3 separate regions of the Homo sapiens genome follow, and regions 2 and 3 are each linked to region 1. The links come from fine-mapping of genetic effects on plasma protein levels. A gene starts in region 1. Each other region holds a variant in brackets. All regions are shown on one strand. Distances are from middle to middle. Region 1 holds the start of PADI4 (peptidyl arginine deiminase 4). Region 2 overlaps PADI4 (peptidyl arginine deiminase 4). Region 3 overlaps PADI4 (peptidyl arginine deiminase 4).

Region 1 (10,427 bases):
AAAAAGCTACATATCTCCCTCACAATTTGCCGACAAGGAAATTCCTTGTGAGCCCTAAGATCTTTCCCGTGAACCAGTTCTGTTGAATTTCACCCTGACAATGTAAGTTAATAGCTTATCTTCACAGGCATGGAACAAAGGACAGAAATCAAAGTTATCCCTCTGCTTACCTGCAACAAATGCATATCTGATTTCTTCCCTTGCTCTATGTTTATCATTTGTGACAATATAGATTCCCTGAGCTCAAGGCATAAGTGACTATTCCTCTCCCCACCTCACACGGAAAATGTATTCAGTGAAAGCTGATCAAAGACTCAATGCAACCACTTACCTCTTATCTACCCATCTTTTTTTTCTTTCTTCCTCTTTGCCCCAATACCCACTTTTTTTTTTTTTTTTTTGAGGCGGAGTTTCACTCTTATTGCCCAGGTTGGAGTGCAATGGTGCAATCTCAGCTCACTGCAACCTCCGCCTCCTGGGTTCAAGTGATTCTCTTGCCTCAGCTTCCTGAGTAGCTGGGATTACAAGCGTCTGCCACCACGCCCGGCTAATTTTTGTATTTTTAGTAGAGATGGGGTTTCACCATGTTGTCCAGGCTGGTTTCGAACTCCTGACCTCAGGTGATCCACCCTCCTTGGTCTCCTAAAGTGCTGGGATTACAGGCGTGAGCCACCACATCCGGCCCAATTCCCACTCTTTTCCCTTTAAATATTGAAGTCCCAGACCCATTTAGGAAAAAGCACGGACTACAGATTTTTCCTGTTTCTGTATTCTTTTCCTGGGCACGTCCTTAACCTTGGAAATAAACCTCTGAAAATGATTGACACTCACTTTAGTCATTTTCTTTGATTTGCATTGGAAAGGGGACCCCTCTGCCAGACACTTTGTGTGCATTATATAATTCAATCTTCGCCGTAACCCAGGAAGGGGTGTTAATTTTCCCATTTTACAGATGGGTAAACCGAGGCTCAGAGAGACAAACAGACTTGTCCAGGCTCCCCACTGTCATGCCAACTGGTCTATTCAGAAGGAAACCCGGCTGGGCGCGGTGGCTCAAGCCTGTAATCCCAGCACTTTGGGAGGCCGAGGCGGGTGGATCACGAGGTCAGGAGATCGAGACCATCCTGGCTAACACGGTGAAACACCGTCTCTACTGAAAATACAAAAAAATTAGCCAGGCATGGTGGCAGGCGCCTGTAGTCCCAGCTACTGGGGAGGCTGAGGCAGGAGAATTGCGTGAACCCGGGAGGTGGAGCTTGCGGTGAGCCAAGATCTTGCCACTGCACTCCAGCCTGGGCTGGACAGAGCGAGACTCCGTTTTTAAAAAAAAAAAAAAGAAGAAGGAGACTTTGGGAGGAAGAAGAGAGACCATAGATGGCAGCTTCTGAATGCACACTGCCCTTTGCAGTTGGCACCTCCTGGACCCCCACCCCTTCTAGGCCTTTACCAAATCCTTTGGAAGTTGAATGAGCTCTGCCCACAGGGAGCAGTGCCCAGGGGAGTCCACTCCCCAGCATTTGGAGGCAGGGTGGGCTGCGAAGCAGGGTGGGTTTAGGGTCAGACAGTCCTGGCTTTGCCACCTTTAACTTTTTTTTTTTTGAGACAGAGTCTCACTCTGTTGCCCTTGCTGGAGTGCAGTGGTGCAATCTTGCCTCACTGCAACCTCCACCTCCCAGGTTCAAGCAACTCTTGTGCCTCAGCCTCCTGAGTAGTTGAGATTACAGGCATGTGCCACTACTCCCATCTAATTTTTTTTTTTTTTTTTGAGACGGAGACTCACTGTGTTGCCCAGGCTGGAGTTCAGTGGCACAATCTCGGTTCACTGCAGCGTCCGCCTCCTGGGTTCAAGCGATTCTCCTGCCTCAGCCTCCCAAGTAGCTGGGACTATAGCTGCGTGCTACCACGCCCGGCTAATTTTTGTATTTTTAGTAGAGACGGCGTTTCACCATGTTAGCCAGGATGGTCTCGATCTCCTGACCTTGTGATCCGCCTGCCTCGGCCTCCCAAAGTGCTGGGATTACAGATGTGAGCCATTGCGCCCCGTCTAATTTTTTTGTATTTTTAGTAGAGACGGGGTTTCCCCATGTTGGCCAGGCTGGTCTCGAAATTCTGACCACAAGTGATTTGCCCATCTTGGCCTCTCAAAGTGCTGGGATTACAGGCATAAGCCACCGTGCCCAGCTTGCCACCTTTAATTTATGTGACCCTCGGTTAGGTGTTTTTGCCTCTTTTTTTTTGAGACAGAGTCTTACTCTGTCACCCAGGCTGGAGTGCACTAGCCCAATCTTGGCTCACTGCAACCTCTGCCTCCCGGGTTCCTGACTTTGGGGACAGAGAGAATGGCTTGAGCAAAGTTATGGAGGCATGAATATGAGGGGCGGAGGTGAGGAGGGAGTGGCCCTCCCACCTGTGTGGTTCAGGAAGAGGCCGATGGCTGCTCAGGAGATGGGAGGGAGGCGCTGTCTGGGGCTATGTTAAGAACAGATAAGAAGTGACAGGAAGGTCTGGAACGGAGACCCATGGGGAGAATGGAGGGTCCTAGAGTCAGGCTGCCTGGGTTGAGTCCTGGCTCCCCTACTTATTAGCTGTGTGGCTTGAGGTGGGTTACTTAACTTCTTGGAGCCTCTGTTTCCTCTTTTGTAAAATGGGAATAACAACATTACCTGCCTCCCAAGGCCATTGAATGAGTTGAATGTAGGAAGTGTGATGTAAATATTAGCCATTGTTACGTGAGATGTTCAGGGGATAGAGTGACAGGCTCAACGTGTGGCTGAAGGAGGAGAAAAGAAGGATTTAGAGGCCCCTGTGAACTCCGGAGTCCCCATCCTTTCTGGGAGAAATGGGCAGTGCCTTCCTCTCTGCCCAACACTGACCAGCTGTCCACCCACCTCTCTAGGGCCAGAGGAAGCACTTGTGATCTTGATTACTACTCATGGACGCTGGGTAGAGGGCTAGCCTGGGCATGCTGGGAGAGGCCCTGGGCTAGCTTCAGCTCCTGTCATTTCCTTCACACCCATTCTCAGAGGAGTTGGGGGCGCCTCAGATGATGTCAGGTGATTTTCTTTTTCCTTTTCTCCCCAACTTCTTGGTCTCCTGCCTCCACCATGTGGCCCTGGGAGACCATCCCGACATTTCCTGCTGTTCTCTGGCTGCTGGGGCTCAGGCAGTAGCAAAGAAATGTCCCCGGCACTCCTGTGGGCACCATTCTAGGGCCACCGATGCCCAGACTGGGATGGGGAAGCCAGGGGCAACCACTCCTATTCCTGACAACAGCAATTGTTGCAGGATAATTTAGGAATCAGAGAGACCGAGGGGTTGAGGAGGATTTATTATTTAGATTCACTGGCTCAGTCAGGCTAACATTTCAAAAGACTGAGCCCTGAACAAAGAGTTAAGTTATCTTTTAAGCATTTCATGGGGCGGGGGTAGATCTGTGCAGGGGGAAGCATATTATAGAGGCAAGAAACAAAGACAGTTATTTAATTGAGACATGCATTATATTATTTTTTACTTTTTAAGGAAAAAAATTTTTACAGCTTGAGTTTATCTGTCTAGTGACCTTGCAGCTGCACAGCTGGAGAAACAGGGTCTTTACAATGCCTGGAAAAAGAGGAGCAATAAGGCTCACTAGCCACAAAAAAACAGGCAGTTAATTTTTAAGGGACTCCAGCTCTTTTTTTTTTTTTTTTCCAGGGAAAATTGTTTTTTTTTTTTTTAACATAGAACTGAGTTTTTGCTTACACGTTTTAAAATTTCTTTTAATTCCTGTTCTACAATAACAACAATGACCCTGCACACTCCCCGAGAGCATTCCTCAACTCTCTTGTTTAACCCAGACCCTGCCACAGAGCATGGCACTCAGCATTTGTTAAATGAGTAAATAAAAACTACCAAGGATGGGCCCACCACTGTGCTAAGTACTCAGCCAACATCTGCACATTTTTTCACATTGAATTCCTATAACCAGCCCATGATGTGAGTATTATCCCCATTTCACAGATGAGGCAACTGAGGCTCAGTTGCCCAAGGCCTCCTTGCTAGCCAGCAGCAGGTCCAGGCTTCCTACCTCAGTCTCTGCCGCCACAGAGCCCCGTTTCGCCATCCCCACCCACGCTATTATGCACCCACTGAGGGAGGCTTAGCTAAGAGATGTGGGGTAACAAACTGTGCTGTGAACCAGGAGGCCCAGGGGCTAACCTTACTTCCAGGGCACACGTGCTGTGTGACCTTGAGCAAGTCACAGACTCTCTGTAAGCTTCTGTTGCCTCGATGAAGACAGGGAGATGGATGGCCTGGTTTGCCCCATAATAATTTATCTGTCGTGTGTTCCTGGGGAATTTGCACTTGTACATGGCAAAGAACCCACAGCCATGAGACTGGCACTTCCCAGGGCTGCTGGGGTCTTCTCTCTCCAGCTACTCCCCTGGCAGTGGCTGCAGAGGCTGGAGCCTAGAGCCTGGGCCAAACACATGCTCCTGTGTCAGTAGAACTGGGTCATCCAGCATCTCCTGACCTGCCTCCAAAACCCCAGAAGGCCCCCCTCTTACCTGCAGATGTCAAGCTGAGTCAAGGTGCCCAGCACACACACGGCATGGGTGGGCTGCTCTGGGGTCACACGGATCAATGTCCCCTGGGCCATCGTCGGGCTAGCTCGTCCCTCTGGCTGTAGGAAGCCCCTGGGCTGGTTCCTTTATATCGCCCAGCAGAGGCCATGAGTCAGCACCTGCGGTCTGTGGCCCAGAGGCTCAACCCCTCCCCACTCAGGTCAGGGGTGTGGGCTCTCAAAATCTCCTCTGCCCTGGGGCTGCCCCTCGGACCTCTAGATGGGTGTCAATGCTGGTACCAGTGGCAGGGTGGCTCTGTCAGTTTCTTGGGAAGGATGGATGGCTCAGAAAGCCTGGGGTGGAGAGTGGGGCTGAGGGGTTGGGTCCTGGTCCTCATGCCCACAGTCCCATCCCTGCCTAGAGGCCCTGAACACCTTGATCTATCCAATCTCACCTATGTCAAACAGGCATATCAGAGAGGAGAAGGTGGGAAAAGCGGGGAGATTTTAGGTAAGCAGTCACAGGCCAGGCTACACGTTCAAAGACCAACCAGGCTTGGGACAAGTCTCTCCACCTGGGCCACCCACATGACAGCTCACATTCTCTATGCCAGGCACGTTTTCCTGCACTTCACATAGAATAGCTCATTACGACAAACCCGTGAACTAGATCATACCATTATCCCCTTATTTCACCCTCACAGCAGCCCTCTGAGGTTGGTGCCATTATTATACCCATTTTACAGAGGAGAAAACAGAGGTGCAGTTCTTCCACAGCTCGAGAGTGGTAGGGCCAGAATTGGAACCAAAGGTGTCCAGTTCCAGAGTGTGAGATTCATTAGCTGCCTGTCTATATGACACGTGCTTTCCAGACTGTATCACAGCTACATCTCGCTACAATACAAGGTGTATATGGGCTTATTATTACAACCCATTTTACAGAAGGAAAATTGAGGCTCAGAGAGTAAAAGTGACTAGCTCTTGCCCAAGGTGCCAGAGCTAGAATGCGGCAGAGCTGGGAAGAGAAGATGAGCTTCCTGGCATGGAAGTTGATGTTCTCTGCATGCTCCAGGATACCTGCCTCTTGCCAGGGCCTCTGGGTGTCAGACCAGACAGTGCAGGTGTGGGCCACGCCTGCCAGGGGGATGCCCATGTGGCCTCAGAGCTGTGGTTGCACCTGGGCCATTGGTGCCAGGCTCTGCCTTTAATGAGGCAACTGGGGGGTGGTGGATGGGTCCCAACAAGGAGCACTCAAAGGGTGCATGCATGGGAGTCTGGCGTGAACATAGAGCGTTTCGTGGGTTGGATATCTTGCGTTTGTTTTTTGTTTGCTTGCTTTGGCTTTGAAGCAAAGAATTTGCCTCATTAATTCAGAGTCAGGCTGTGGGATCAAACAGGCTTTAGTTCAAATCCTGCCTCATCTCAACATCCCTATGGAGTGCGTCCTATCAGGATGCCCATGTGTAGATGAGACCACAAAGACTTAGAGAGATTGAGTGAGACCCCCAAGGTCTCATAAGCCCTACAGTGGGGATCTGGATTCAGACCACCTTCTCTGGGCTCAAAATTTATCTTCTGTACCAGCAGATGATGATGTGGCCAGGTCCGACGTTCTGACGCATCTACATGACTGCCTGCACACAGTGTTAATAAACCCAATTTCTCTGGCTGACCGCATGATTAGAACTAGTTTGAGCTTCTACTGGGAAGTGGCAGGAGGGAGCTGTCCATTGTTAGAGTTGGGAGGGCCCTTAGAGAACACCCAATCCAGTCCTCGTTTTGCAGAAGGGGAGACTGAAGCACAGAAAGGGAGTGGGACCTGCCCACGGTCACACAGCAAATCAGAGGGAGGGCTGGCCTCTACCCCAAGTCTTAGGTCTCTTGAGGTTGTTTTCTTCTGTTCCTTCTTTTCTTTCTTATTTTCTTCAGCAGTTTGGGGTTTAAATTTGCTGTGAACGAGCCACAAAGAGGACGAGCCCCAAAGCAGTTTTGTTAATTCAACAAATACTGACTGAGTGCCTATTGATGGCCAGGCACTGTTCCAGGCACCGTGGATACGCTGTGAACAAAGTGGACAAAAATCCTGCCTTCATAGAGCCTTTTTGTTTGTTTGTTTTTGTTGGGAGAGAGACAGCCAGTAAGCAATAAATGCAGTAAGTGGATTCTATCGTATGTTAGTGGGGTAGAAAAAGGAAAAAGGACAGGGTAAAGGCTACCAGGAACACAGGGAGAAGGTTCCAAGTCAAGAGAACAGCCAGTGCAATCGGTACAAAGGCCCTGAGGCAGGGACATGCCTGGCGGGTTCAAGAAAGAGCAAAGAGGCCAGTGTGGCTGAAATGCAGTGAGGGAGGGGGAGAGCAGCCCAGGGCGGGGTGCGATCATATAGGGCCTTTCGGGCATCCTAAGAGCTTTGGCCTCTGCTCCAAGTAACGTGGGGAGCCTGGAGTCATTTTGAGCAGAGAAGGACCGCGAACCAACTTGCTTGAACGTGATCACTCTGGCTGTGATGTGAGAACAGACTGTAGGGGACCCGGGAGGAGGCCAGAAGACCTGTGAGGTGGCCGCTGCACACAGGCTGGTGACAGACGGTGGGGCTCAGGCTAGCGTGGTGGCAGTGGAGGAGGGGAGGATGGGTCAGGTTCTGGACATTTTGTGATGCAATACAGCCAATAGGAGTTGCAGAGGGACTGGATGAGGGGTGTTAAGAAAGACAGAGGGATGGAGGAGGACACCGCAGTTTGGAGCCTGAGGCCCTGGAGGGATGGGGCTGCCCGCAGCTGGGCAGGGAAGGCTGAGGGAAGGGCGGGGGGTGGGCATGGTGGAGATCAGGAGTTTGGTCCTGGCTTTGCCAAGTGTCATTTGGTGTGATGATGCCCTGTAGGACGTTTGAACACATGATTCCGGAGCTTAAGAGACAGGACCAGGCTGAAAAGGATAAAACAGTGAGATGTCAACATCTCCAGCTCCCCTAGGGAATGAGTGAGGATAGGGAAGAGAGAAGGCCGAGGGATGAGCCCTGGGGTCCTCCACCAGAGACCCAGGGGAGTGATGAGGGAGAGGAGATGCAAAAGAGAATGCATGCTATTTGCAATTACACAGGGAGCAATGCAAAACTAGGTTTGTAACACACACACACACACACACACACTCACTCACACTGAGGGAAAACGGCTGCACTTTGGAAGCAAAGCCTCTTTGTAGAAACACACTTGGTCACTCACAGTGGAACAAGGGCCACGGGCTCTGTGATGGGCAGGGCTGAGGGCAGGAGCCAAGGGCAGTGGAATGAGAGGCCAACAGACTTGGGGCTGGCGCGTGCCCCACCTGTGCCTGCAGCTCCAGCTGCATCCTGACATGGCTGCTCCCCTACTGTTGGACATGGGGGCTGTCTGCAAGTTTTCAGTGTCATAAACCATGCAGCGATGCATCACTTGTGCCCGTGTCTGTGGTTATTTGCAGGTATGTTGTAGATTCATCTTTGCCCCTCTTTAGTTTTTTGGCAGAGCGCTTCATTCTTTTCCTGAGATTTGCCACACCTTGTGTTTAAATGCCCATCCCCCAGCTAGCCTGAGAGCAAGGCCAGTGCCTAGACTTGTCACTCAACACTGGTGGCTTAACGCCGTGGCTGTTTGTGTTCCCAGCACCCAGCCCAGTACTTGACCCAGACAGGATCCTGTGAAGATCCCTGAGAACCCGGCCTGGCTGTTTCTTTTGCTGATGGCATTAACCCTTTCAGAGCCCAAAGGGGACCTTTGGGGTTGGGGAGTGAACTCTCTTATACATGGTGAGCGGCTCAGGATCCAGGCCAGAAACCCTGGAGGAAGAGGCCTCTCTTCCTGCTGAAAGGCAGAATCACCAGCCCAGCTCACGCAGAGGAAGCAAGGGTGTTCTGGGTGTTGCCAAATACCCTCTAGGCATTTGGGGCCCAGAGGGCTGAGGCCACCTGAGCTCCTGTCCCAGAGACTGGCTGGCTAGCCTGCTCCAGTTGATTGCAATGACATCATTTGGGGGAAAGGAATTAGGGTCAGAGGACTCTCCCAGTGGCTCTGTGTCTGGGTATAGTGCAGTGCTGTTCTTACAGCAGATAGCCTAGCTCTTGCTTCAGCATTATTCATGCATAAGTACAGTTCATTCCCAACACTGAGCTGTTCATTCAACAAATATTCACCGAATGCCTCCTAAGTGCCTGGCCCTCGCTTAGAAGCTAACCTAGGCTTTGTTTAACATAAATGTAGAAGCACCCAGGGTGATAATAGAGACCACCATCTATTAACGCCTGCTATGTGTTTACCTGTCACTAGGTCCTTGGGCTCTATTATTTCTAATTCTCACCATTAAGTGGGGCAACAGGTACAATCTCATTTCTACAGAAGAGTGAAGCACCAGGCTCAAGGTCACACGGCCTCTAGGGGGGTTTCAAATTTGGCTTCATCCAACATGCCATGCCCTGGTGTAGCCCTGACCTATGCCAGGTCCTAACATGCATCATCTCTAATCCTCACAGCAACCTTAACATCTCTCCCCGTTTTCCAGGTGAGGAAACCGAGTCTCAGAGGAGTTAGGTAACCACTCAAGGTTACGCAGAAGGAAGTGGTGACACTTACGTTTAATTTTGCGTGGTCTAACTCCCAAGCCCCTGCATCCTCGTCCACTCTAGGGCTATGCAGCTGCCCCCAGGCCAGGTCACTTGGCCAATGAATTCTGAAGACCCTTCCAGCACAAAGAACCCTGGTCTCTCAGCCTCTCTGAATTCATGACTTCTAGCAGAACACTGGAGCATGTCTAGATCATCCAGGCTGGCTGAAACTAGAAAATCCCTCCTCCTGTGGATCATCTGAGGTCAGGAGATCAAGATCAGCCTGACCAACATGGTGAAACCCTGTCTCTATTAAAAACATAAACATTAGCTGGGCGTGGTGGCAGGCACCTGTAATCCCAGCTACTCGGGAGGCTGAGGCAGAAGAATCACTTGAGCCCAGGAGGCAGAAGTTGCAGTGAGCCGAGATCATGCCATTGCACTCCAGCCTGGGTGACAGAGCAAGACTCCGTCTCAAAAAAAAAAAAAAAAAGAAAAAAAAGAAAATCCTTCCTCCTGCAAAGTGTTCATCCCGGAGCCCCCTGCCTGCTGTGTGTATTGCAGGGGCAGTCTTTTCTCCTCTCTGTTCACACAGCTCTTCCCTGCCCCCAGCATCTCTCCTTTCTCTCCCTTGCAGAATCCTTCTAGGTTTTGGAAGGATTCATGGGCACACAAGGGCATAATCATGACTCTAACATGTGCCAGGCTCTGCCCTGCACTGGAGCCCATTCATGTGAACAATACACTAACCCAGTGAATGTCAGTCATTGACAGATGAGTAGCACATTAGGGGCAGAGACAGGAGATGGAGCCCAAATCTATCTGCATCAAAAGCCTGCAACCTTCCCCTCTGCCACCTTTGAGAAAAGGAAGGGGACCAGTCAGATGAAGGCAAATGTCTCTGCATTCCCTTTCTGGAACTGGCTCCTACCCAACCCTTGACACCAGGTGCTTACATTTCTTCTCTGGCACCCAGGATTTCTCCTGGGGACCAAGACCATGAGAATGTGAGTGACATGAAAGCATGGACTTTGCTTTGCTCACTGTTATCTCCCTAGTGCTTAGGACAGGGCCTAGCACAGAGTAGGTGCACAAGAAATACTGTATTTTACTGAATTTATGACACTATTTATTTTAAGATACATTCCTTCCTCTAGCATCGTCTGTTGAAAAGACTCTCTTTCAACAAATTGAAATTGAATTGCTTTTGCATCTTTGTCAAAAATTGTACATGTTGGGCATACATGTGTGGGGCTATTTCCAGGTTCTATATTCAGTTCCATTGATCTGTGTCTGTTCCTCCAATAA
Region 2 (10,427 bases), 32 kb before region 1:
ACCCCTGCAGCAAACTTCTGCCTGGGCATCTAGGCGTTTCCACACATCTTTGGAAATCAAGGCAGAGGTTCCCAAACCCCAATTCTTGACTTCTGTGCACTTGCAGGCTCAACACCATGTGGAAGCTGCCAAGGCTTGGGGCTTCCACCCTCTGAAGCCACAGCCTGAGCTCTACACTGGCCCCTTTTAGCCATGGCTGGAGCAGCTGGGATGCAGGGCACCAAGTCCCTAGGCTGCACATAGCATGGGGACCCTGGGCCTGGCCTACGAAACCATTTTCTCCTAGGCCTCTGGGCCTGTGACGGGAGGGGCTGCCATGAAGACCTCTGACATGCCCTGGAGACATTTTCCTCATTGCCTTGTGGCTTAACATTAATCTCCTTGTTACTTATGCAAATTTCTGCAGCTGGCTTGAATTTCTCCTCAGAAAATGAGATTTTCTTTTCGATTGCATTGTCAGGCTGCAACTTTTCTGAACTTTTATGCTCTGCTTCCCTTTTAAAACTGGATGCCTTTAACAGCACCCAAGTCACCTCTTGAATGCCTTGCTGCTTAGAAATTTCTTCTGCCAGATACCCTAAATCATCTCTCTCAAGTTCAAAGTTCCACAAATCTCTAGGGCAGGTACAAAATGCCACCAGTCTCTTTGCTAAAACATAACAAGAGTCACCTTTGCTCCGGTTCCCAACAAGTTCCTCATCTCCATCTGAGACCATCTCAGTCTGGATTTCATTGTTCATATCATTATCAGTATTTTTGTCAAAGCCATTCAACAAGTCTCTAGAAAGTTCCAAACTTTCCCACATTTTCCTGTCTTCCTCTGAGCCCTCCAAACCGTTCCAACCTCTGTCTGTTACCCAGTTCCAAAGTTGCTTCCACATTTTGGGTATCTTTTCAGCAACGCCCCCCTCTACTGGTATCAATTTACTGTATTAGTCCATTTTCACGCTGCTGATAAAAACATACCTGAGACTAGGAAGGAAAAGAGGTTTAATTGGACTTACACTCCCACATGGCTGGGGACACCATGGTGGGAGGCAAAAGGCACTTCTTACATGGCGGCGGCAAGAGAAAATGAGCAAGATGCAAAAGTGGAAACCCCTGATAAAACCATCAGATCTCATGAGACTTATTCACTACCATGAGAATGGTATGGGGCAAACCACCTCCATGATTCAAATTATCTCCCACCAGGTCCCTCCCAGAACACGTGGGAATTGTGGGAGTACAATTCAAGATAAGATTTGGGTGGAGACACAGAGCCAAACCATATCAACTTGGGAGAAGACAGAATATGAGTTCACTGTTCAAGGTCACACCACCTGGAACAGTGCTGGGACCGGAATACAGTCCTCACTGGATTCCAGCCTGCGTCCTGACCACATTACCCTCTTACTCTTCTGCCCCTGAAGCTATCAGAAGAGGGGAGGAGAGGGTCTCCTGAGACCCCAGCACACTTGTCAGCGGCTCTCAGACTGCAGGAAGATTGCCTGGGCCTCCCCAAAATGCAGATGGGCCCCGTCCTCAGGGATAAGACCCAGCAGCTCACAGGCAGCCAGAAAGGTGCATTTTATTTAATTTAAATTTAATTTAATTTAATTTAATTTTTAATTTTTATTATTTTTAATTTTCTCAAGACGGAGTCTTGCTCTGTCGCCCAGGCTAGAGTGCAATGGTGCAATCTCGGCTCACTGCAACCTTGGCCTCCTGGGTTCAAGTGATTCTCCTGCCTCAGCCTCCCGAGTAGCTGGGATTACAGGCACATGCCACAACACCTGGCTAATTTTTTGTATTTTTAGTAGAGACGGGGTTTCACCATGTTGGCCAGGCTGGTTATTTTATTTTTGAGATGGAGTCTCACTGTGTTGCCCAGGCTGGAGCGCAGTGGCGCAATCTCAGCTCACTGCAACCTCCGCCTCCAGGGTTCAAGCAATTCTCGTGCCTCGGCCTCCTGAGTAGCTGGATTACAGGCATGCGCCACCACGCCCGGCCAATTTTTGTATTTTTTAGTAGAGACAGGGTTTCACCATGTTGGCTGGGCTGATCTCAAACTTCTGACCTTAAGTGATCCACCTGCCTCAGCCTCCCAAAGTGCTAGGATTACAGGCGTGAGCCACCGTGCCCAGCCCAGAAAGGTGCATTTTAAATGAGTTCCCAGGAGTTTCTGGTGCACAAGGTCCATGGGACACACTCTACAGGCCCCTGGGAGTTAACGTAGCCTCAGCTGCATCAGGGCAGGACAGAGGCAATGACAACAACAGTAGGGAACTTCCCTGCCTTTTTAGAGCCCCCAACAAGCAGCAAGCTCTCAGTGGGCAGGGGAGGGGTGACTGTTTTTCCCATCACACAGTGAGTGCTGCGGATGGAACTCAGGCTCTTTGTTGTCTGGACCCACCCCAGCACCCCAGGACCTCTCACCTGCACGCG[T/C]ACACCTCCTGCGGGGGCTGGGTGTTGGGGGTCATGATCCAGGGCGCCACGCGGAAGACCACGCTGTCTTGGAACACCACAGCCTCGGGGAGCTCCTGCAGGGGAGGGGGTAAGGGGAAGGAGGGGCTGTCACCGCTGCCAGGGCCCAGCACCTACCACTTCCTGCAGCTGTTTGGAGTCCCCCTGCCCAGCTGGGCTCTGTACCCCTTTCCCTAGCCAGGCCACTGCCTGGAAGCCCAGGCCCCCGATGCAGGGCTGCCTTCTCGGCCTACCAGGTTGGACGTGTCCAGCAGGGAGATGGTGAGGGTAATGAGCCCCGGGAAGTCGGTGTCCGGGAAAGCGAGGGCCTCCACGTAGAAGTCCATGTTGTGCTTTCCACCGGGGACCATCAGGTAGTGAGAGGGCCACTTGGGACCCAAGACTACGCTGCACTTGGAGGACAGTTTGCCCCCTAGGAGAGAGGCAGGGGAGACTCAGGTCTGCGTCCCCACTTCTGAAGACTTTTCCTCCTCTCCTTAGTGCTCCCCAGAAGCCTTTCCCAGGGTCACCACATGGCACCATCAGAGAACCCCTTGCAGCCAAATCTGGCCAGTCCCCTTAGGAGAAAAGGACTGAAGTTCTAGCTGGGACGCTGCTCCCCGGCTGAAGTCCCAGAAGGGTGTGGCAGGGGTGCCTGAGCTATTCCAAACTTTATAGGAAGTCCAGTATACACCATTCCTTCACTCATTCCTGAGCATCTGCTCTAGCCAGATGTCAGCGGGGGACAGGGGCACAGCAGGGGACCAGGGAGACAGAGTCACTGTCCTCCTATCCTCACCCCCAGAGAGTGCACAGTCTTACGGGTGAGTAGGGAGAAGCAGAGATCATGAAAATAGCAGACAGCTGTGATAGAGGGAATCCCTGAGAACTTCCTGGAGGAGGTGATGCCTGGGTGGAGGCAATAAGTTGACCTGTCACCAAATCAGTGTCAGTTTAATCACTTTAAGAATGAAACAGGCCGGGTGTGGTGGCTTACGCCTGTAATCCCAGCACTTTGGGAGGCCGAGGCAGGAGGATCACAAGGTCAGGAGATCCAGACCAGCCTGGCCAACATGGTGAAAGCCCATCTCTACTAAAAACACAAAAAAATTAGCCAGGCATTGTGGTGGATGCCTATAATCACAGCTACTCGGGAGGCTGAGGCAGGAGAATTGCTTGAACCCAGGAGGTGGAGGTTGCAGTGAGTTGAGATTGCGCCACTGCACTCCAGCCTGGCGACAGAGAGAGACTCCATCTCAAAAAAAAAAAAAAAAGAAACAGAGGCTGGGCATGGTGTCTGTAATCCTAGTGCTTGGGGAGGCTGAGGCAAGTGGATCATTTGAGGTCAGGAGTTCGAGACCTGTCTGGCCAACCTGGTGAAATCCCATCTCTACTAAAAATACAAAAATTAGCTGGATGTGGTGGCACATGCTTGTAACCTCAGCTACTGGGGAGGCTGAGACAGGAGAATCTCTGGAACCCAGGAGGTGGAGGCTGCAGTGAGCCAAGATGGCACCACTGCACTCCAGCCGGGGCAACAGAGTGAGACTCTCTCAAAAAAAAAAATTAAAAAAAAAAAAAAAAAGCTTGGAATAGACCAGGCAGAATGATCAGGATCAGAATGATTGTCAGGCCCATGCAAAAAAAAAACCCTCCCATGGCGCTCTCCATCTCCTTCCATCCAGAAGCCAAAGTCAATATACGCCTACCTGACCTCCCCCTTCCCCTCTGCCCTGTCTCTTCCACCCTCATCCCCCACTTTAACCCTTGCACATTCCGCCCCAGCTGCACTAGCCTCCCTGCATTCCTCCAAACCACAGGCATGATCTCACCTCAGGGCCCACGCACTTGCCGTTCCCTCTGCCTGGAACGCCCTTCCCCTAGGTGTCTGTCTGGCTGTTCCTATACCTCCCTCTGCTCACATGGCACCTCATGGGGGACACCTTCCCTGGCCACCCTCTCTCCACACAACCCGAACTCCACTCCTCACTCCACATCCCCTTCCCTGCCGCATTCTTCTACATAGCATGTCACAGCGTTGGACACACTAGGTGTTTTATGTAATTATTTTACCTATAGTTCTCCCAGCCACTAAGATGAAAGCAACACGAGGGCAGGGACTCGGTCACAGTCATGGCTCTGTGCCCCGTGCCTGGGATCAACCTGGCACCTACTTAGTTGCAGGTGCTCGTGGGTCACTGAGAAGTTCCTGATGTCTCTGATTAGCAGGATGTTGCAGAACAAATGATTACATGCCACATGCTGTCAGCTTGCACTCAAAGTCTATAACCAGGAGGTGTGTGTGTGTGTGTGTGTGTGTGTGCGCGCGCGTGTGTGAGAGAGAGAGAAAGAAAAGCAGGGAGCAATAACGAGTCATTTTGTCTGTGTCCTCCAACTGGAAGGTAGTAGACGAGATGTCGTCTGTCTTGCCCACTGCTGCGTCTGCTGTTCTTAGAACTTGGCACATAGTAGGTGCTCAGGATTTATCTGCCACACAGCTGTGTGACAGGATTGTGCCCCGTTGGCCAGGGCAGGAGGGGAACAAAGATGGGGATGACTTACGTGTGGCCTGAAACACCCTCACTTTGTCCATCTCAGACCTGGCCACGTGGAGCACCAGTGTATGGTTTGTGAAGAAGTCCTTGGGGGTCTTCGTGCTCAGGGTCATCAGCGACATGTCCTGCAGGTCTGGGATGAGAAGGGCATTGCCTGAGTCACAGGGCCCTGAGACCGCTGCTGGTTTCCCATAGCCACCTCACCTCCTGGTGGAGCCTCACACCCCACCGCTCCCCTGAGACCTCCCTTTACCATGTTGCCTGGTTTTCTTTTCTTTATGCTATTTTGAGTATTTAAATGATGGTTTTCATTTTGGAATGAGAGCTCATTAAGGTTTTGGTCTCCTCCCACTAGGATGAGCTGGGGATGTAACCTCAGCAAAGCGGGGACCACATTTATTAATATTTTGCTCCTTGCAACGTTCCCTGAATCTTGAACCTAGAAAGCCGAGAACTCCCTAGAACAATGACCAGCAGGCGGCAGGCGCTCGGCTGAGATTTGTGCAATGAACGAGTGAAAGGTTTCTGTGCTGGTCCTGAGCAAGAAGTGGGGTTTGTGAACCAACTTGAACAATAGCCAAGAAGGGGTAGAGGGTGGGGAGAGTGAAGAGATGGTTCCCAAGGGACTGACTGATAGCCAAGGGCTTAAAGGCTTTGCGGTCAATTTGGTTTGAATCTGGGATCTGGGTGGGCTTAGGAAACGGATTTCAGCTTTCTCTGCCTCTGTTTCCTCATCACTAAGACAGGGGCAAGAGTTGTACCCACCGTAGAATGGTTGTGAAGATAAAGTCAGGTGATACACAGTGCTTATACCAGCTCTTGGCACCCCGGGAGTGCCCACAAAGGACAGCTGTTGTGATTATTACCGCATGTCAGGCACTGTACAGAGGCTGTCCCCTGGCATCGGGCCAGGCCAACTACATGCAACTTGAAAATACATCCATTTCTATGTTATTCTAAGAGCTCCCCAGGAAGGCCTGCCAGCCAGAGCCCCTTAGCACCTTCCTCCAGCGCAGGTGGATAATGTTTCCTCACTTCAACCCCGGAGCCACCCCCTTAGCAGCCCAGAGGTTTGCCTGCAGAGATCCTGCATTCCCCACCATCCTCATGCCTCTAAACCTGCTCCGGTGTTGGGACGTCCGGGGTTCAAACCCCGAGTCTGCTACGTGTCAGTGCTGTGACCTTGGGCAAATTGCTTAAGTTCCCCGTGCCTTGGTTTTCCTACCTATAAAGGTTTGTGTTGGAAGATCAGATGAGTTAATCATTCCAAAGTGGTCAGAGTCGTGCCCGGCCTATGGCAGAGGTCTCAGGGCCTGCTCTGATATGAGTTTGGGAATGAAAAGCTTTCATTTCGAAGGATTTCAGGCTCCAGGTTTGACCTAAGAGCGTTTAGGTTGGGCAGCAGGGTGAGGCATGGAAACCAGGGCCTGTAGGAGGCATCAGGAGACAGCACTGGCCTCAGCTCTTCCCTGACCGCTGCGTGAGCTTGGGGAGGTCACTTGACCCCCGAGGGCCTTTGCCCATTGCTTCACCTATAAAACAGATTTGCCAACAAGAAGATGCTTTCAATAACCCTTATTTCAGAGGGCCGTCACCAGGTTCAGGCTATGTGGGCAAAAGGGCTTTATAAAAAGCCCTTCCCGTTAGCTAGCAAATGCTCTTTACCTTCGCTGTCAAGCACTTCATCATCCTCGCAGTCCATGGCAGAAGATTCGAGATTGTCTCTGTCACAGTTCACCAGCAGGATGGCACCCTGTCCACAAGGGCCCCAGGTCCAGGTCCTCTGGACACCAGCAGGGAAGAGTCATGCTCAGAAACTAGCATAGAGCCCTCCAACTCTTGCAAGAGGCATAGCAACTCCCCATCACCTCTTTTTTAAAATTTATTTATTTATTTATTATTTTTTTGAGACGGAGTCTCCCTCTGCTGCCAGGCTGGAGTGCAGTGGCGTGATCTTGGCTCACTGCAACCTCCACCCCCCAGGTTGAAGTGATTCTCCTGCCTCAGCCTCCTGAGTAGCTGGTACTATAGGCGCATGCCACCACACCTGGCTAATTTTTGTATTTTTAGTAGAGATGGGATTTCACCATGTTGGCCAGGATGGCTCAATCTCTTGACCTCATGATCCATCCTCCTCGGCCTCCCAAAGTGCTGGGATTACAGGCATGAGCCACCACGCCCGGCCCCCATCACTTCTTTAACCCAGTGCAGTTTACACATCTTGCTTCCACATCAATTAATTATTTGATCTCAGGAGTGGATTTTTGCCTTTTACTCCAAAAGTCACAACCAAATTCACCCAAAACACAATTCATCCATTTAAAAAAAGGAGCCCAAGACAGTCACATGGATTTTAACAGCTTTTAAGAAATGTTGGCTGGGCGCAGTGGCTCACACCTGTAATCCCAGCACTTTGGGAGGCTGAGGCAGGCAGATCACCTGAGGTCAGGAGTTCAAGACCAGCCTGGCCAACATGGCGAAACGCTGTCTCTACTAAAAATACAAAAATTAGCTGGGCGTGGAGGCATGCACCTGTAATTGCAGCTACTCAGGAGGCTGAGGTAGGAGAATCACTTGAACCTGGGAGGCGGAGGTTGCGGTGAACCGCCCCTGCACTCCAGCCTGGGAGACAGAGCATGACTCCATCTCAATAAATAAATAAATAAATACATAAATACATAAATAAATAAATAAAATGTTGAGCTTGACAAACCAAATGCAGCTAAATATGTATGTCAATATTCTAATCTAAATAGTTACTATTATGTGAACTCTTAATTACTCATTCAGCAAAGTGTGGTACTATTCTTAGCAGCCAGTTAATATCTGCCTAGAGATTAAAGCACATTAAGCAGCCCCACCCTGTAGGGATCTAATAGTGATGGCGCCTCCCTTCGCGGGAGAGCGTTTGCCCCTGGGAAATGACTGCATTTCGGGAGGGATACAGGGACAGATTCTACTCCTAGAGTTGTAATTTGTCTTCCCACTTTTGCTGACCCCACAAAGGATCTTCATCTTTTTACAGGGCACAGCCCCCAGTGCACACCAGCATAAAATGGTGCAGGCAGCTCTGGGGTTTCAGGTTTACCTGCAGACTCTGGTTTAAGACAGCGTTCACCTGCCCTTTCTGCACATCCCATCATCCTGTCTTTCCACAACACACCCTCCCTCTCCCCACCTGGCTCCTTCCCGCCTCTCCCCCTGCCATTTCTTCCTTTCTCTGTTATTCCCCCATGTAGACAGCTCTGCAGAAATCTCTCCCATATCAGCTGTAGAGCATGGAGTAGGGAGTTTTTGAGCCAGAGTCGAGACCTGCCCACGAATTTCCTCTCTGCTGTGTATTAACTGGGTGACTCAGTAGGGTTTCCAGTTTGTAGGATAACACATCTGAACCCACAATTGGTGAAATTCTGATTTTGTAAAATAGATGGGAAATACATAAGCCAAAATATTAATGGTGATGCTAATTTTCTTTCTTTTTTTAACAGTTAACACGGAATACGTGGGACAGGCCAGCATTTGCCCCATCACCACAAGGGGGCGCCCGGGGAGAATCCAGTAGAAGTAGGAAAGGAGCGTTTGGGTGAGTGGTACCTGATCTTTCACAGCTCTGGTTGGCTTCACTTTGCCGGTGCGGGTGATGTCTGCGCACAAGGAGATTTCTGAAATCCCATCAAGTAAGAGGAGAGGTTGGTGAGGGTCCGGGGTTGGGGCACCCAGCCTGGCCCTGAATGGGCAGGTCGTTTCCCCAGGGGACTGTGTGCACCCATAGTGTGAGCCCCTCTTCCCGTCCTTCAGAGGAGACACAGGTTCAAGACATCCCTCCTCCACGGCCCCCAGGAAGTCTGGCTACAGTTCGGACAGCAGAGCTGGGGCCTCTGACCACACCTGTTCCCCTTCAGCGGGGCCACAACTGTGATGTCCACCAGACCCTGCACGTCTGGCCACCCCCAGGGATTTTGGAAGGAATTCCCAACCACCACAATGAGAGGTTCGATGTGAAGCCTCTGCAGGCACACCCTGCCAGCCTCTCGAAAGACTCTGGCCCCAGCCCTCAGTGACCTTGGGGTGGGGGACCCAGCGGTGACACCAGCCCCACGGGCTCTTCATGACATGTGTTGTGACTGTATCTGGGGACAAATTGCAACCCTGAACATGCCCCCACTCTGTCCAAATGGCTTGGCTGAGAAAGCAAACATTTGTTTGTAAATCCTTCCTCCCTCATCCGAATATATGACTGCAAGGTCATTCCAATAAAATAGATCCGTGTGCCCCACAGCATGATATGGTGACCCTTGTCCCACATGAGACTGACCCAGATGACCTTCTAAACATATTCATAGCCACGTCTTAGTTAGGGCCGGGGAAGCATTGTCCTTTCGTGGCCTGGACTTCCTGACTCCTTCACTAACCAATTGCATGACCTTGGACAAGTCTGTTTAGCTCTTGTGCCTCAGTTTCCTCACCTGTAAAATGGGATGATAATAATAATACCAATTTCACTGGATTGTTGTAAGGATTAAATGTAAAGTCTTAGCACAGTGCCTGGCAATTGAGTAAGTGCTGTAGTATTATTACTTAAATATGCATTAATGAATGAAATGCATTAATGAAATGAAACCTGAAGATTCTATATGCTACATATTATATATATATGTGTGTGTATATATATATTTTTTAGTTTTTGAGACTGGGTCTCACTCTGTCACCCAGGCTGGAGTGCAGTGGCACAATCATGTAGTCTTGACCTTCTGGGCTCGAGCAATCCTCCCACATCAGCCTCTTGAGTAGCTGGGACTACAGGCACATGCCACCATGCTCAGCTGTTTTTTTTTATTTTTTGTAGAGACAGGATCTCACTATGTTGCCCAGGCTGGTCTCAAACTCCTGGGCTCAAGCGATCCTCCTGCCTCCGCCTTCCAAAGCGCTGGGATTGCAGGTGTGAGCCACCATGTCTGGCTGCTACTTATATGTTTAATACACATAATGATACTAATCATGATATTATTGTTCAAAATGAGGTCAAGTTTAAGAATGGATTTTATTTAAAGAAGAACATTACATAAATATGAGTATAGGTGGATCATTGATATGGCAGAAATGGTGAAGATGAGATATAAATAATGGAATTTGAGGAACACTATCTATATTCTTGTATAAGACAGTGTCATTATCTACTTTTTGTTATAGATATTTGAGGTATCAAAAAGGAATAGAGGGCCTGGCGCAGTGGTTCATGCCAGTAATCCGAGCACTTTGGGAGCCTGAGGCAGGCAGATCACCTGAGGTCAGAAGTTCGAGACCAGCCTGGCCAACATGGTGAAACTCCATCTCTACTAAAAATACAAAAATTAGCCAGGCGTGGTGGCAAGCGCCTGTAGTCCCAGCTACTAGGGACGCTGAAGCAGGAGGATCGCTTGAACCTGG
Region 3 (10,427 bases), 43 kb before region 1:
CCTGGTGCATCTGCCGGCTGTCATTGCTGTCATGGCAGGGTTAAAGGGGTGTTATCGGCAGCAAGGGCTACAGGGAAGTCCCTGAAGGACAAGGGGCTTGGCAAAAAGGTCAGGGTTCTCCTTCAGCTGAGAAAGGGATGCAGGAGTCTAGAATGCCTTTATTTTATCCCCTAACATTTGAGAAATCAAGGAATTGTCATTCTAGTTTTATTGGGGGAAACTGAGGCACAGAGTCACTAAGGTAAGTAGAACAGAGCTTAGCCTCAGAAAGCACTGCCTCTTGAGTTAGATGAGATGCTGGTATTCTGGGTACACATGGGGCTTAGAGCCAGTCTGACCTAAGTCGGTGATCTCTTGTTAGCCATGTGGCCTTGGGGACATTCCTTCACCTGTTTGAGCCTCAGTTTTCTCCTAAAAAAAAAAATTAGTGTTGCAGTGCCTTGTTCTTCCTCACTTTTTTTTTTTTTTTTGAGACAGAGTCTTGCTCTGTTGCCCAGGCTGGCACAATCTCGGCTCACTACAACCTCCGCCTCCCGGGATCAAGCGATTCTCTTGCCTCGGCCTCCCGAGTAGCTGGGATTACAGGCATGCATCACCAGGCCCAGCTAATTTTTGCATTAGTAGAGACGGGGTTTCGCCATGTTAGTCAGGCTGGTCTCGAACTCCTGACCTCAGGTAATCCACCTGCCTTGGCCTCCCAAAGTGCTGGGATTACAGGTGTGAGCCACTGTGCCCAGCCTCTTCTTGTTCAATAGGTTCTAGCCATCCTGGCCTTGCACGCAGGAGCTCATTCCTGCCTCAGGGCCTTTGCACATGCACTTTCATTTGCCAGGAACTCTCTGTCCCAGATCTCCAGGTGGCCCTGTCCCTTCTGTCATTAGGCCTCAGTTCAAAAGCCCCTTCCCCAGAGAGGACCTCCCTGGTCACCCTAACAGTTCCTATTCCTCCCGTGCCCCTCTCTTTTGTTTTTGTCATTTGAAGTTATCTTGTCTACTTTTCTATCATCTGTTTCCCTACTAGAGTAGTGGTAAGGACTTGTCTTTCTTGTCCACGGCTGCATTCCCAGCTCCCAGAACATTTTGGATGCTCAGTAAATATTCACTGACTGAAAGAGGGTAAGTGGCAGGGCTGGAATTGAACTTGGGTCTATGGGCTCCAAAGCCCGCATTCCTCACCCTGCGCTTGGATTCCTCTCACACTCCCTCAAGTCTGTTGGGCTGTCTAGAATCGGAAGCAGGAAGGCAAGGCTTCCACTCTGGCCTCTGCTTTTCTACGGCATACCTGGGTCCTGGCCACCCCTTCCTGTTACTCCCCTCCTTACCTGGGATAACAGCTGTCCCCGAAGAGAATCCTGCCCAGCGGGTATTCCTTGCCCCTGACTGTGACTGGGGGGCTCACTTCCAGGTTCCCAAAGGAGTCCAGTCCACTGATACCCCCTGTTTGGGGCCCTCGAGTTACATAGCCAAAATCTGGACCCTGAGATAGGAGAAGGGAGTGCCAAGAGTTAGAGGAATGAGGTCCCTGGTGAAGGGTCGGGGGGTCCAAGTTTAGAGATGAACTTGGGCACAGGAAGTAACTCAGTACCGTCTACAGCTGGCACATAGCAGGTGCTGTTATCACATGTGGAAGGTTAAAGGAATGTTGAGTTCATTCAATGGACAAGAAAAGGGACTAGCATTTGTTGGGTCCCTAAAGCGTGCCAGCTGCTTGGTAAACCTTAACTTGGGCATAAAACAAATCTGTAAAACATCATTTTTTTTCCCCTTAAGACAGAGTCCCACTCTGTTGCCCAGGTTGGAGGGCCGTGGCATGATCTCAGCCACTGCAACCTCCGCCCCTGGTTCAAGGAATACTCCTCAGCCTCCTGAGTAGCTGGGACTACAGGCACGCCCCACCACGCCCAGCTAATTTTTGTATTTTTTTTTTTTTTTAGTAGAGATGGGGTTTCACCATGTTGGCCAGTCTAGTCTCGGATTCCTGACCTCAAGTGATCCATCTGCCTCGACCTCCCAAAGTGCTGGGATTACAGGCATGAGCCCCCACGCCCAGCCACATTTATTCTCTTAAAATTCTGGAGGCCAGAAGTGTGAAATCAGTTCCACTGGGCTTAAGTCCAGGGATGGCAGAGCTGGTTCCTCCTGGAGGCCCTGAGGAAAGAATCTATTATATTTCCGTGTCTTTTTCAGCTTCTAATAGCCGCCTTGGCTGGCAGCCCCTTCTTCCACCTTCAAAGATCTCCAGTCTCTGCTTCCATCATCACAGGCCCTCCCGCATTCCAGGATAAACCAGGATAATCACCCCATCACAAGATCCCTAATATAATTACATTCAGCAAAGTCCCTTTTACCATATAAGGAAACATCAGGTTCGGGGGGACTAGGATGTAGAGGGGCCATTATTCAGTCCACCGCCCATCTCCCCTGCCTCCCAGGAGAGGGTACATCTAGCCTTCTACACATAGATGGTCCATTCCCTGAGGCTTCATGGGGGCCATGAACTCCCTGAGAGTAGACGCCAAATTATGTGCCCAGGTGTGAGTTTCTGGGAAGATGAGTGGGTCTTAAGGAGGTCTGTGATCTTCAAATTTACTTCTTCACTGCAGTTTTGACCTCCTGGGCTCAAAGGATCACGGTCCCGTCTCAGCCGCCCGAGTAGCTGGGACCACAGGTGCATGCTATCACAACCTGGCTAATTTTTAAAGTTGTTCTTTCCTGTAGAGATGGGGTCTCACTATGTTGCCCAGGCTGGTCTCAAACTCCTGGGCTCAATCTTCCTGCCTCGGCTCCTAGAGTGTTGGGATTATAGGTGTGAGCTACTGCGCCTGGCCTGATTCCACAGATTTAACAATCACACTTCCAGTTCCTCTCTCCACTTCTCTCTAAAACCCAGACCAACCCGCTTCTCCCGCCCATCAAAGCTTTCCTTGTCCAGGTCTCCATGAACACATGGCCATATCCCAAGTGCAATGCGCGGGCCTCGCCTTCCCCTCAGAAGCCCCTGAATCAGGCGGTCACACCTGTGTTCTCCGCACACTTTCTGCACTTGGCTTTCAGGACACCGGGGGATCCTGGTTCACCTCCAACCTCACTTGCCCCTTCAGTCGTCCTGCCAAGTCTCATGGAATTCCGTTCCCGAGCCGACAACCCTCATGTTCGCATCTCTGGGCATCCCTTCCCTCCCAAACATCACATGTGTATCCACGCTCACTTGACTTCCCATTTGGATGTTGACCAATTGTCTCCCACTTGCCCTAAACAGAACTTTGGGTCCCCTCTTCCCACCCCCTCATTCTCCATCAATCTGTTCCTCCTCCCACAGTCCTCCCCTCCCAGGGGATGGTGCCTGCCACCCACAGAGGTCACAGCCTTGCTGTCAGCTTTGGCTTGCCTCTCTCATAGCGGGGGTCAGAATGCCCTGCTGGCTCTGCCTTCCAGACATAGCCGGAATCTCATGGCTTCTCACCTCCTCTGGCCACACCCTGCCTGCACTCCCAGCATCCCTCACCTGCCCACTCCCTTGCCCCTTGCCTCTGTTCTCTTTACTCAACAACACATAGCAGGGCTTGTTCCCTTTTCTAACAAACCAGATCATAATCCTCCTCTGTTTAAGACCCTGTGATGATTCTCAGTTTCTAAACAAGCAGCCTTAACAGTAGCCAACAAGCCCAACCCCATCCGGTCATCCCGTCCCTTCCCCATCACCTCTGACCACAGCCTCTTCTACTGCCCCCCATCTCCTCCCATCACCTCCTTGACCACCTCTGCTACCACCTCCCATCTCTTCCCTGACCACCCCTCTTACCACCTCCCATCTCCTCCCTGACCGCCTCTCCTACCACCTCTCATCACCTCCCTGATTGCCTCTCCTACTGCCTCCCATCACCTCTCTGACCACAGTCTCTCCTACCACCTCCCATCACCTCCCTGACTGCCTCTCTTCCCACCTCCCATCACCTCCCTGACTGCCTCTCCTCCCATCACCTCCCTGGCCGCCTCTCCTCCCATCACCTCCCTGACTGCCTCTCCTCCCATCACCTCCCTGGCCGCCTCTCCTCCCACCTCCCATCACCTCCCTGACCGCCTCTCCTACTGCCTCCCATCAGCTCCCTGACTGCCTTTTCTACCACCTCCTATCTCCTCTCTGACTGCCTCTCCTCCTGGTTGCTCTGCTCTACCCCTCCAGGCCCTCTTGCTGTTCTGGAACACTCAAGGCATGCTCCTGCCCCAGGGCCTTTGCACTGGCTGTTTCACTGCCTACAACACTCTTCACCCAGACACCCACTCACATGGCCAACTCGCTCACCTCCCTCAAGCATCTGCTGCAAGGTCAGCTTCTCCGTGAAGCCCACCCTGACCATCCTATTTAAGAACGCAATCTTTTTTTTTTTTTTTTTTTTTTTGAGACCAGGTCTTACTCCTATTGCCCATGCCAGAATGCAGTGGTGTGATCATGGCTCACTGCAGCCTCACCCTTCAGGGTTCAAGGGTCCTGCCACCTCAGCCTCCTAAGTAGCTGGAACTATAGGCATGCACCACCATGCCTGGCTTATTTTTATTTTTATTTTTAATTTTTTTTTTTTTTGTAGAGACAGGGTTTGACTATGGTGCCTAGGCTGGTCTCGAACTCCTGGGCTCAAGTAATCCACCAGCCTTGGCCTCCCGAAGTGCTGGGATTACTGGAATGAGCCACCAGACTCGGCTTTAAGAATGTAACCTAATCCACCTTCCCTACCACGCTGGCACCTATGAGCCCCTCCATTCCGCTCTACTCTGTCTTTCCCTGTAGCTCTTTTTTTTTTTTTTTTTTTCCTCTGGGACAAGGTCTCATCTGTCACCCAGACTGGAGTGCAGAAGTGCAATCATGACTCGCTGCAGCCTTGACCTCCTGGGCTCAAGCGATCCTCCCACCTCAGCCTCTCTAGTAGTTGGGACTACAGGCATGTGTTACCATGCCTAGTTAATTGAAACAATTTTTTTTTTTTTTTTGTAGGGACAAGGTCTCATTATGTTGCCCAGTCTGGTCTCAAACTCCTGGGTTCAAACAATTCTCCCACCTTGGCCTTCCAAAGTGCTAGGATTACAGGTATGAGCCACCACACCTGGCACCTGTAGCTCTTGACATCCCCTTCTAAGGAACCATATAACTGCTTTGTTCTATTCATTGTCTGCTGTCTGTCTCTCTGGGCCAGAACGTCCCCTCCGTGAGGTCAGGGACCTTGGCGTTGCTCCCTGTCATATCTCAAGTGCCTAGAACAAGGCCCCGCTGAGTATGTGTTCAAACAGTGTTTGATGAATGAATGTAAATTCAGCCACATCACTGCCCTGGCTGTTGTTGTGAGAGGGGGTCAGTTATACAGCCTTCAGCCTTGGATTTCTGCAGGCAAATGAAGGCATATCCATAGTCTGCAGAAGTGGCCCCCCAAGAGTGGGCTGTGTGGGGGACGCTCATGGATGCCAGGTGATGCGGCCTGAGGCACAACGTTGGAAAGCTGTTGCCCTTCTCATTTTCCTCCAGTCTTTTCTGGTTCCTCAAAAATTCAAGTTTCAGTGATGCAAACACATCCTTGACACCTGCTAATCCCTCATTTTAACCAGCAGAGAGCTGACCTCGAGCTCAGAGATGCTGCAGTCACTTGTAACGAGCTGGCTTTGGTAGCAGGATCTTGTTTCATTCTGTTTAACTTCACAGTTGCCTTCTATCTGCAGGAAGTGCTGCTGGTTTCCCATTGATGGTGGTGATAGAAAATTTACTGACGATGCTTACAGGAAGAACAACCACTGTGTGTGAAGCTTTGTGCCAGCTGCCCGATGGACAGCGTAAGGCATAACAGCCTCAGGCCCAGCAGCGCAGGCAACGAAAAGTAGATGAACGAGTCCATGATTTTAACAAAATACACTGAAGAAGTCAACAGGGGGCTGTAGTGGAGAAGGCTAGGAGTTGGGGTGGGAGTAGGGATCCCTCTTTTAGCATCAGGGAAGGCCTCACTGAGTAGGAAATAGAAGCTGAAACCTGAAGGCTGAGAAGCAGCCAGCCCCGTGAACAGGGAACAGCACTGCAAGCAGAGGGAACGGCATATGCAAAGACCGTGAGGTGGGGAAACGTTAGGCAAGTTTGAAGAACAGGAAGGAGGCCAGTGGAGGTGGGGCTGGGTAAGGGACAGCGAGAGTGGCCTACAATGGTGCTGGAGAGGCAGGTGGGGCCAAAGCCTGGTGCTGAGTGTGACTTTTTCTCCAATTCTCTTCATTCTGAGTGATTTGGGTGTTTTTTGTTGTTGTTTTTTCTTTTTCTTTCTTTTTTTTTTTTTTTGATACAGTCTTGCTCTGTCACCCAGGCTGGAGTGCAGTGGTGCAATCTCGGCTCACTGCAACCTCTGCCTCCTGGGTTCAAGGGATTCTCCTGCCTCAAACTCTTGAGAAGATAGGATTACAGGCACACACCACCATGCCCAGCTAATTTTTGTATTTTTAGTAGAGACGGGATTTCGCCATGCTGGCCAGGCTGGTCTCGAACTTCTGACCTCAGGTGATCCATCCTCCTTGGCCTCCCAAACTGCTGGGATTACAGGTGTCAGCCACCACACCTGGCCTCATTCTGAGTGATTTGAGTTGGAATACACAGATGTGCTTAGCTGAGGGACCAGTGCTGCCTGCCTTCATCCAAAGTTGTCTGTGGGAAAGGGGACAACAATGGTGCCGAGGTGTCCGTCTGTCTGTCCAGCAGGACTTGTGGCATCAGAAAATCTGGCCTTTGTTATACTTGGAGCATCAAAGTAGACACAGCCACTGAACCAGGCAGGACTGAAAGCAGCAGAAAGAGGGCAAAGTCACGGTAGCAGCTGGCTGGTTCGCCCCAACGCTGCTGAAACAGGATGAACTCGACCCCATGGCTGAGTACACACTGTGAATCCAACAGCATCTCTGCATCTCCACTGCTCAGCGCACAGCTTGGCCAGGAGGAAGCGAGACTCGGGACAAGTTGTTGAGTTTAACTGAAGTTTCATTCTGAAGCCTTCTGTGTGGGCAGGGCCACTCTCCCCTCCCTTGGGGCACAGTACAGATGCTTGTCGGAAAGCCATTTGTCCTAGCAAACCTTGGACCCCACACTCCTTCCGTCGTTTTCCCTGGGCACCTTGAGCCAAGGGGCTGCCAGGACTCAGAGCGCAGGCCTGGGGTCTTCCTGGGAAAGCAGGGAGAGGGAGGCAGGGCGGGGAAAAGCATGCTCACCAAGCCGGACTGGCCGGGTTTGAATTCCAACTTCTCCACTCTGAGCCTCAGTTTCTTCTTCTATAAAATGGGCCTATTGATAGAATCTCCATAACAGTTTATCAAATTAAATGAGTCAGTGCAGGTAAAGAATGCAGCACTGGCTAACACACAACTCATTCTCAATAAATGCAACTATTATTATTATTGTTCTGTGCTGAGTTTGCATCAACCTGCCAGGCTAGTCAAGCATGAGTCAGCAATACGTCACTTCCCACCTCCACATGGACAGCCTGTGGCTGATAAAGTCACACCCAGGAAATGACCACTGATCCACTGATCCCAAAATCCCCCATATCCCAGATGGAGCCCCTGAAGACCAAACACCACCCATAAGACAGAGCCTCCAGCTGGGCATTGGGAAAGATTCCAGCCCCGGCCCCACCTCCACCTTGCAGCAAGAGCTTCTTCAAGAGCACAGGGAGGTCCAAGCCTGAGCCACCTCCTCGGCAGGGTTACCTGGAGATCAAGCTGAGCTCACGGGTGACAAGGGTTTTGGGAAATGAAGAGCCAGATCTTATCTTGGTAATAAAAAAATAACAAGCCCCACCTACATGCTCCCACTTTGGTAGGAATTCCACCTCCTTGCACTGGGCTACTCAGCTACAGGCGCGGGCGGGGAAGGCAGGCTAAAAGGAGGGAGTCTCAAGACAAGAGGGTTTCGGCAGCTGTGCCCCCTCCCCACCCCATGCAGGTACCATCACGCGTTTGATGGGAAACTCCTTCAGGCCTCTGTTCCTTGGAGAGTCGAAGACCACGGGCAGCGTTTTGTGTGGGGCTTGGATGTAGCCGATCTCCATTTCATCCTGTGGGAGTGAGTGGAGAGGAGGCTGTTGCGC[G/A]TGCTGCCTGGGTCTTGGTGCCCGACGCCAGGATGGGGGCATGAAACCATCCACTCACTCTCACCCTTGCAGTCAAGGGCACATTCCTATGGGATGTTTGATCTCAGAGAAGGGGCTCAGAAGCGGAGCTTATTGCCCCCTGTTTGCCCAGTGCACGAGAGGCCATGAGCCTGCAGGAGTGCCCTTCCCTCCTACTCCTGGTGGTGCCTGGGCCAGTGCTGGGGACCCCTGGTGAGCAAAACTGAGACCCCTCCTCAAGGTGAGAAAACAAGGGAGCCAGGCAGTGGGCACCAGGGTTAGGAGGTGATGGGGGGTGAGGGGTTGAGGGGTCTGTGGGGACACAGAGGAGGGGCTCCTGATGCAGCTAGGATGGGCCAGAGAAGACCTGTTGGCGCCAGAGCTCGCGGCCTCCTCCCCAAAGGAGGGCAGATAAGACCCAGCCTGGGCCACTGGAGCAGCAGGAGGAGCACGGGGAGGTTTCAGAAATGAATCTGCTGAAAATTCCGCCTCCGCAGGCTTGTATTCTAGCAGGCAGGTGTGATGTTGGACATAATCACTACTATAAGTTACTATTAGGATGAACCAGATGAAAGTTCCACTCTTGCAAATCAAAAATGGCACATATCAGCAATTTCACACAGGTCAACTTGGTATCAAAAAAATGGAATGGCGGCCAGGTGCAGTAACTCATGCCTGTAAGCCCAGCACTTTGGGAGGCTGAGGTGGGTGGATCACCTGAGGTCAGGAGTTCGAGACCAGCCTGACCAACACGGAGAAACCCCATCTCTACTAAAAATACAAAATTAGCCAGGCGTGGTGGCACATGCCTGTAATTACAGCTACTCAGGAGGCTGAGGCAGGAGAATCATTTGAACCCGGGAGGCAGAGGTTGTGATGAGCCGAGATCGAGCCATTGCACTCCAGCCTGGGCAACAAGAGTGAAAAAAAAAAGAAAAGAAAAGATGGAATGGCAAGAAAGGAAGAAAGGATGTTGTGTGGGGGTGAAAAGAAAGAGGGATGAATTCCTGCTGGGGGTGATGGGGGAAATTTATGGACGAGGAGCATTTGTGCTGGGATTCACCGGTATGGATTGGAGATGGGGGATGGGAATGGGGAGATGGGTCCAAGAGACAGCACCGCAGGGGTGCGGCATGGAAGGACAGGGTCCCGAGGCAAAGCAAGGCAGTGGTGGGGAGGGTCAGGGTGCTAGGCTGGATGAGGCCCAGTCTCAGTCCTTGGGGCACTCCTGGCATGATGGGGGAGTGGCACGGAAACAGAGACTGGTAATCATGTGTTTCCAGGCACAGTGGCAGGCTGGCCCCAGGGAAGGGAACCAGGCAGGCTGAGAGGGCCTGGAAACAGACTAAGCAGGAGGAGATGGGAGCCATGGAAAGTGCTGGAGCTGGGGTGTGACCTGCTTTGGTGGCTGGGCCCAAGATGGACAGCCTGGAGGGAGGACCACTTGAGGGGCTGGTTGAGCACCAATCTCCTGAGCTTCACATCATTTCCTGAGGCCACCTGAGTGTTTTCAAGCAGGAAGGTGGCTTCATCTTGGTGACTGCAGTGGGCCTGCAGTGGCCCACAGCAAACGTCAGATGAATCACTTGCTTGAGCCTCCCGGCCCAAGGATCTCTCAGGTTCCTATCTCCCTGTCCATCTAAGGAAGAGTGGCCGGTGAGGCACCAGGCTGAACCCCAGGAGCCCGGGTCCCCCAAGTGTCTCTTGGCCCTCAGGGACAGTCACCCTGCCTGCCCCGCAGGGCACATACCTGCATCCACTGGTCATCCATGTTCTCCTCCTCAGGGCAGATGGTCAGCTTGCACTTGGCTTTCATGGCCAGAGTAGTCACTGACTTCAGGAAGTCCTCATTTTCAAAAATACTAGAGAGAGCAGAAAAGCAGCTCCTTAGTGCTCTGGAATTTGAAGCTCAGCCTGGAAGGATTGGGAGGGACACACAGGTGGCTCAGGGGTCACCTGTGGCCTGAACAGAGGCTCCTGGCACGTCCGGTCCATCTGCTCTTAGCAGGCATTAGCTCATGGAATCCATCTAACAAGTTATGAGGCAGGAACTAGTGGGTACCCCTTCCACCCGTGTATTAGTCCGTTTTCACGCTGCTGATAAAGACATACTTGAGACTGGGAAGAAAAAGAGGTTTAATTGGACTTACAGTTCCACATGGCTGGGGAGGCCATGGTGGGAGGCAAAAGGCACTTCTTACATGGCGGTGGCAAGAGAAAATGAGGAAGAAGAAAAAGGAGAAAAACCTGATAAAACCATCAGATCTCATGAGACTTATTCACTATCATGAGAACAGTATGGGAGAAA

The links. PIP is the posterior inclusion probability: the model's chance that the variant is causal. Protein levels are from antibody-based Olink assays in UK Biobank. Linkage for the fine-mapping came from a reference panel and not from the study's own genotypes, which makes the PIPs less certain.
Region 2: its variant is fine-mapped to the plasma level of the PADI4 protein (UK Biobank, PIP above 0.99). The variant lies in the coding sequence of PADI4. If it changes the protein, the assay may bind it differently, which can mimic a change of level.
Region 3: its variant is fine-mapped to the plasma level of the PADI4 protein (UK Biobank, PIP above 0.99).

What each region holds. Positions count from the first base shown.
Region 1 is chr1:17,302,435-17,312,861 of GRCh38, reverse strand. It overlaps PADI4 (peptidyl arginine deiminase 4), which reads right to left and starts at 4,665. Exons shown (of 16, transcript NM_012387.3): 1 at 4,548-4,665. The coding sequence starts at 4,639. RefSeq lists an enhancer at 7,483-8,343.
Region 2 is chr1:17,334,394-17,344,820 of GRCh38, reverse strand. PADI4 (peptidyl arginine deiminase 4) reads right to left here. Exons shown (of 16, transcript NM_012387.3): 4 at 8,595-8,662; 5 at 6,666-6,783; 6 at 5,008-5,133; 7 at 2,700-2,878; 8 at 2,419-2,522. Among named protein-coding and RNA genes, the nearest start is that of PADI4, 31 kb to the right of the region's middle. The variant T/C (reference allele first, on the strand shown) is at 2,428.
Region 3 is chr1:17,345,582-17,356,008 of GRCh38, reverse strand. PADI4 (peptidyl arginine deiminase 4) reads right to left here. Exons shown (of 16, transcript NM_012387.3): 9 at 9,870-9,981; 10 at 7,961-8,068; 11 at 1,322-1,476; 12 at 1-26. Among named protein-coding and RNA genes, the nearest start is that of PADI6, 21 kb to the left of the region's middle. The variant G/A (reference allele first, on the strand shown) is at 8,102.